Linked DNA regions of Homo sapiens. The protein of the gene in region 2 purifies or fractionates together with the protein of the main gene of each other region. This does not show direct contact. Each region holds a gene or a part of one and is shown on either strand. Other genes may lie near its edges. The genes, in order: SLC30A9 and MTRES1.

Region 1 (3,823 bases), on a different chromosome or scaffold from region 2:
CTGGAATAAGGCTGACCTTACTGATGGGTCATTCTCCAGGAGTTCAGTGAGCCGTTGTACTTGTTCTGGCTGGATGGACCGCCCTAAGAGTGCTTCTGTGTTAGTGTAGATGAGGAATGCTGAGACCATGCCTAATAAGGTGCCCACACCCAAAGAACCTAGGCTGTCATACAGTGGATTGCCTAAATGAAGCACATAAAAAAATCAGTAAATTAACAGTTTATATTATTTCAGTGAACTTTATAGAGAGCAAAGAACCAGAACGAGTAAATCAAGGCACTTGAAATTTATTCCTAATTTCTTTAATTACTTCCTTTAACAACTCCTAATAGTTTTAATATACCACAAAATGAGGATGCTACAACTTGCTTTCATAAGAGTACTATGTGACATAATTAAGATCTCTTACTTGTACCTGTCATTACATATGTGAAGTTTCTGAGCACATTTAGATTAGAGACACCAATACAAAAAAATGACATAATGAAGAGTCCATTTCTTTTAGATATATCCATAGCACTTTTCCTACACCAGATAGACAAAATAACAGTGGAATCAAAAGCTGAAAGAAACCTTTTTCCGTATCTTCTTCCTACTAATGTTCTGTAAGAGAATTAAGCCCTACAGAAAATAATATGGGTGACTCTCTTCTCATCCAACCAAGGATGATATATAGCTAGTATCATTCTAGATAAAAAGGAGAGAACTTAATTCATTACATGCCATAGGTGCCTCAAGGTGGTGCTTCTCAAAGTGTGGTTCCTGGACCAGCAGCCATCACTTGAAAACTTGGTAGAAAAGCAAATTCTCAGACCTCATTTCAGGCCCCTGAATAAAAAATTCTGGATGTGGGTTTCAGCATTCTGTGTTTCCCCAAGCCCTTCAGGTGATTCTGATTCTAATATTTGCCTTAGGTTGTCAGGGCTTCTCTCCCAGAACCAATGAGAAAGGCTGATTTATCATCTATGAATGTATAGGTAATATTTATATAATAGACACCAATAAATACGTTTTAAATCTTTATAATAAATTTTACACATGGCTTTTATGACTACAAGTCTTTTTATCCCAAAGATGAAATGTCATCAATATATTTAACTCTTCTTAATGCTTGATAAAACATATATTTTGCTAAGCTGTAACACTAAAAAGCAAACTTGTTAATCTATACTAAGTGTTAAAAATGATCCGCTTGTAAAACATTATCCATTAGAAGTTTTGTAATTATAGAGCTCAAAATCAAATACTGCTCTTTAGAAATCCAAATGTGAAGAGTTATTTTTATTTAAATATATACATTCATGTACTCTTAAAGAAATTACAGGAATATTAGCTGAAAGAAAATACCTTTTTTAAGAAAACTTTTATTTCTTGGCATGTTATTTAATTTAATTTGAATAAATTAGCTAATTAAGAAAAATTTAATTCATGTAAAACACATTACATATTTTTGTAAATTTGATTTGATTGGTTTCTATTATTATGTAAAAGAAAATAAATTATTCAAAGTTGACATCTGCATCAAGTCACACTTTTCTTAAGCCTAAAATTTTGCTAGTAATTTATGTTCAAAAACAGTCTAAAACTATATGGTCAACCAGAAAAACAATCAACATTTTTACAAATATTTTGGATCACAATAAACATCAGAGAATGCTAGTTTGGTATTAAAATGCACACTCAGAATGAGAAAGAAGTATTCATATTTCAGACTATTTGAAGAAACACTGCAGAACTGTGGAAGCTCGTCACCTAAAATTATTTTAAATATGTAAGGACAAATAGAGAAGTATGGAAGAAGTTCCTTTCCAAGAGAATTCCAACTTCATAAATTGAGTCTTTTCATGCTAAATGGTTGTTTTCGAAAATAAAAATAAAATAGAATTGTCTTTTCATTTACTTGTATTTTATTGGCCCTCAAAACACTTAATTAGCTACCAAAATAAGGACACAAACAACTTAGAATTAAAGAAATAGGAAGGCAACAGTAGTTATTATTGGCATTAAGTGTGGAAAAAGACAAATGAACAAGAGCCACAATATACGGTTAAGTCCTCATTCATGTTGTCAATAGGTTCTTAGAAACTGCGACTTTATAGGGAACAACATATAACAAAACCAATTTTACCATAAGCTAACTGATACAAACAAGAGTTAAGTTCCGGCCGGGCGTGGTGGCTCATGCCTGTAATCCCAGCACTTTGGGAGGCCAAGGTGGGAGGATCACCCCCGAGGTCGGGAGTTTGAGATCAGCCTGACCAATATGGAGAAACCCCGTCTCTAATGAAAATACAAAACTAGCCGGGCGTGGTGGCGCATGCCTGTAATCCCAGCTACTCGGGAGGCTGAGGCAGGAGAATTGCTTGAACCTGGGAGGTGGAGGTTGCAGTGAGCCGACATGGCACCATTGCATTCCAGCCTGGGCAACAAGAGCAAAACTCTGTCTCAAAAAAAAAAAAAAAGAGTTAAGTTCCTATGGCATATTTCTGGTCACAAAAACATCACTCAACTTCTAAGACCCAAAACATGTCTAATATTGAACACTGAAATAAATGTGGGCTACATATACATTTTTAAAAATTAATAAAAACTATGTAAAATAATTATTTACCCAATTTTTGGTGAATCAGTGAGTATCAGCAATAGTAGGGGTGGTGAGTTAAATCAAAGAATAAATGTTTGCAAAGTGAAAATTGTAAGGAACACCTATCACCACATAATTCAAAAATAAACAACCACAAATATGTAGGCTTGCTGAGCGCTTTCATACATCAGTTATTGTCCTGCATTTGTCTGATTATCATCTACTTGAGCCTATCCTAGCAGTTCAGGACACAGGAAGGAACCAGACCTGGCCAGGATGCCATCCCATGGCAGGGCACACTTACACACACCCCCACACTCACTCAGATTGGGACTATTTAGACACCCCAATTCACTGACCATGTACGGCATTGTGATGTGGGAGGAAGTTGGGGTGCCCAAAGAAAACCTATGTAGATAAAAGGAGAATGAGCAAACTCCACAGAGATGGTAGCTCCAGTTAGGAATTGATATTTTTCGCAACAATGTTATAACAAAATCAAGTTGAACAAAACAATGTTATTTGAGGACCTATGTATATTTATTTGGAACTTTAGAGTTTATTAAAACTCTCATATTTTCTTAATAAACCTAAGAGGTTACCAAGGTAAATATTATCCACACTTTTATAGGTAAATAAAAAGTTCAGAGTGATTGCACAATTTTTTAAGTCACAGCTAGAAAGACGTACAGCATTACAGAAATCCTTTACAAATAGCCTTCCTTATTTCTAATTTAGAGACATTTTTAATTCAAATAAACCTGAATACTTCTGCTGACCAAATGTCTTACATAAGTCAATGATTAGTAGGAATTAACATTTAACAATTTGTTGGTTTAATATTATTCAATGATATAAGAGAAAATTCCCACATATTAGAGAATTATTTAAGTAGGACAAATAAATCACCTGTAATTTAAGGAATATTTACCTGTTATAGAAGTAAGGCCCATGCAAGTGGCTGCTATTATAACTCCCAAGACTGCAGCAGTATCCTCCAATAATATCACATTTGTACTAGGATCACGACTTTCCATTACTAGTCATTGGGGAAGAGACAAGACAAGAAAATTTCTAAAATCTTAACTTGATACTATCAGGTAACATTTTAATAAGTATCCATTTAAAATCAAGATATAAGTTAAGATAAAAAAGTGTATGAGAGATTATGATTTTAAAAACCTTGCTCAATGCAAACATAATTTCTTGGCTTAAATGTCAACAATAACTGATACATAA
Region 2 (3,767 bases):
GCCTCCCAAGTAGCTGGGACTACAGGGATGTGCCACCACACCCAGCTAATTTTTGTATTTTTAGTAGAGACAGGGTTTCATCATGTTGGCCAGAATGGTCTTGATCTCTTGACCTCATGATCCACCTGCCTTGGCCTCCCAAAGTGCTGGGATTACAAGTGTGAGCCACCGCGCCCAACCCTGGGTTCAATTTTTTAAAATGACTACTTCAGCCTATGTGGACATTTTAAAAAATCCGTCTAGAAATACAGGCCAGGCGTGGTGGCTCACACCTGTAATCCCAGCACTTTGGGAGGCTGAGGGTGGATCACGAGGTCAGGAGTTCAAGACCAGCCTGGCCAACATGGCGAAACCCCGTCTCTACTAAAAATACAAAAATTATCAGAACGTGATGGTAGGTGCCTGTAATCCCAGGTACTCTGGAGGCTGAAGCAAGAGAATCGCTTGAACCTGGGAGGCAGAGGTTGCAGTGAGCCGAGATCGTGCCATTGCACTCCAGCCTGGGCAACAAGAGCAAGGCTGTCTCAAAAAAAAGAAATACAAGGCTTGGGAACTCTGCTTTACCTTTTTGGTATAACCTTATTTCATTCAAATTACTATTTTTAAAGAGATGAGGTCTCACATGTTGCTCAGGCTGGAATGCAGTGGCTATTCATAGGCATAATCATAGTGTACTGTAGCCTCAAACTCCTGGGCTCAACGACACTCCCTCCTCAGCCTCCCAAGTGGCTGCGACTACAGACACACACCAACTTGCTCAGCTAAAATTCTTTTTTTGTTTGTTTTCTTTTTTTGAGATGGAGTCTCGCTCTGCTGCCCAGGCTGGAGTGCAATGGCGCGATCTTGGCTCACTGCAAGCTCCACCTCCTGGATTCAAACGATTCTCCTGCCTCAGCCTCCTGAATAGCTGGAATTACAGGAGCCTGCCACCATGCCCGGGTAACTTTCTGTATTTTTAGTAGAGATGGGGTTTCACCATGTTGGCCAGGCTGGTCTCAAACTCCTGGCCTCAAGTGTTCCACCTGCCTTGACCTCCCAAAGTGCTGGGATTACAGGTGTGAGCCACTGTGCCCGGCCTACAATTCATTTTTAATAAGTAATATATGCATATGATACAAAATTTAGAAGATACAAAAGGGTAGACAAAGAAAAGGTGTATAGGCCAGGTGTGGTGTCTCATGCCTGCAATCTCAGAATTTTGGGAGGCCAAGGTGGGTAGATCACTTGAGGTCAGGAGTTTAAGACCAGCCTGGACCACACAGTGAGACCCTGTCTCTATAAAAAATAAAAAATTAACCAGACGTGGTGGTGTGCCTGTCATACCAGCTACTCGGGAGGCTGAGGTGGGAAGATCACTTGAGCCCAGAAGGTCAAGGTTGCAATGAGCTGTGGCTGCACCACCGCACTCCAGCCTGGGTAACCGAGCAAGACACTGTCTCCAAAATAAAATAAAGAAAAAGAAAAAAAAAATATACAAAGAAAAGGATACTCTGTGTATATCCTTTCATAGAGATACTGTGCATGATGTCTGCCTCTGGATAGAGAAGGCTAGTGTGTGGCTAAAGAATGAATCCCTTTGGCGGGGTGTGGTGGCTCACGCCTGTAATCCCAGCACTTTGGGAGGCCGAGGCAGGTGGATCACAAGGTCAGGAGATCGAGACCATCCTGGCTAACACAGTGAAACCCCGTCTCTACTAAAAATACACACACACACACACACACACACACACACACACACACACACACACAAGAATGAATCCCTTTGGAGCTTCCTTGTAGCACAGAGAAGGGGTGCTCCTCCTTTACCCAACTGATCCCAGGAAGAGATGAGTTTAGGAAGGATTCAATCCCCATACTTGGACACCACACACCCACTGTTTAATCAACAGTTACCCAACACCTACCACACCCTGGGCTTCACCTGGTTTTCAGCTCAAAGAAAAGCTTTGCTGAATCGCAGACAGCCAGGGTTAGAGCTGCAGCATCAGACAAGCACCTGACCCTTCGGGGTCAGCAGCCAGGCACAGGCTCCACAGAGCAGACCAGGGAAGGCGAGGCATTCTTTATTCCCCTCCACGGCCCCTGTCCCTCAGCAGACACAAAGCAAAACTGGCTGGGATTAGGAGCTGTTCCAAATATCTACATTTCAAATCTCTAGTTAGCTGCAGTTTCTATGGCTACCAGGCCTCCTAGTAACAAGACAGCTGAGCGTTAATAATGCCCCCTTCCTTTGCTGACCCTCACAAGAAACATGGAAGGCAGCTGAGACAACAGAACACCCAAGGCAGAATGAAGCAGCAGCAATTAGGCTGTAGTTAACAACATCACAAAACGGGGGCGGGTGGGAGGGGTGTGAGGAAAAATAGTCTAGTGGGGTTTGTAAATGAGGCCCCAGCACAGAGACAGGGTGTTCAGGGAGTAATCATTCTTTACTCCAAGAATACATCTTGTTTTTGGAATACTGCAGCTTAGAAGGAGGGCAGGCTACAGCAGGAAAAAGCTATTCAGAGATGAGAAGGGCTTATGACTGCATGTAGCTCACTGAGCAATAGCTGCTGACAGCCAGCCACAGTCCCAGCCTGCCGGTTCAAGTCAGGGGCATCACCAGGGCCCTGGGACTTGGGGGCTGAGACAGCTTGGGGGAGTTTTCCCTCCTTCTGCCCACAGAGCTACAAGAACCTGCATGATCCCAGTTAGCAAGGACTGCAGGAAGCCTCAGTGCTCACCCAAATGCACGGCTGACAGCCGACAGCCTCAATTTCCCATGTCCTAGGGCAACCGGATGTAGTTCGGATCCTCCAACCCCAGGGGTATTTTGAAATATGAAAGATGAAATGAAAACAATCTCCAAAGTATGTCTAACTTCTCTGGAACCTTTGTTCCCTGAACACTGAGTTAGATTATGTCTTCCAATACCTCGTGTCTTGTGTCTTCCACACTTTTTAAGGGTCTCTGTCATAACTTTTTATTGTGTTTTGTTAACTTTTATTATCAGTATTGTTTTTTCCATTATGAAAGTGATACATACTCATGGTAAAAAAATTCAGAAAATAAAAACTATGAAATTAACATAACCCATAATGCTTCAATTAAAGATAAATGCTAGTAACAGCAGTATTTTAATTCCAGATGTATATATATACGTAACTTACTTTTACAAAAAAATATTTTCTAACAGAATTTTTTTTTTTTTTTTGAGACGAAGTCTCGCTCTGTCGCCCAGGCTGGAGTGCAGTGGCACGATCTCGGCTCACTGCAAGCTCCGCCTCCCAGGTTCATGCCATTCTCCTGCCTCAGCCTCCCAAGTAGCTGGGACTACAGGCGCCCACCACCACACCCGGCTAATTTTTTTTTGTATTTTTAGTAGAGATGGGGTTTCACTGTGCTAGCCAGGATGGTCTCGATCTCCTGACCTCGTGATCCACCTGACTCGGCCTCCCAAAGTGCTGGGATTACAGGTGTGAGTCACTGCGCCCAGCCAGAATTTTTTTTTTTGAGACAGGGTCTCACTCTGTCACCCAAACTGGAGTGCATTGGCATGATTATGGCTCACTGCAGCCTTGACCTCCTAGGCTCAGATAATCCTCCCGTCTCAGCCTCCTGAGTAGCTGGGACAAGCGCCTGCCACCACGCCTGGCTAATTTTTTGTATTTTTTGTAGAGACAGTTTTGCCATGTTGCCCAGGCTGGTCTTCAACTCCTGGGCTCAAGCGATCTGCTGGCCTCAGCTCCCAAAGTGCTGGGATTACAAGCATGAGCCACTGTGCC

The links.
Region 1: the proteins of MTRES1 (region 2) and SLC30A9 purify together in Homo sapiens (affinity purification with mass spectrometry; one large-scale study listed by BioGRID and IntAct). This does not show direct contact.

The regions. Positions count from the first base shown.
Region 1 is NC_000004.12:42,066,885-42,070,707, reverse strand, and holds part of SLC30A9 (proton-coupled zinc antiporter SLC30A9, mitochondrial), read right to left. Parts: intron 3,624-3,823; coding exon 3,516-3,623; intron 183-3,515; coding exon 17-182; intron 1-16. UniProt on the Homo sapiens protein: Mitochondrial proton-coupled zinc ion antiporter mediating the export of zinc from the mitochondria and involved in zinc homeostasis, zinc mobilization as well as mitochondrial morphology and health.
Region 2 is NC_000006.12:107,044,913-107,048,679, reverse strand, and holds part of MTRES1 (mitochondrial transcription rescue factor 1), read right to left. Parts: intron 1-3,767. UniProt on the Homo sapiens protein: Mitochondrial RNA-binding protein involved in mitochondrial transcription regulation. Functions as a protective factor to maintain proper mitochondrial RNA level during stress.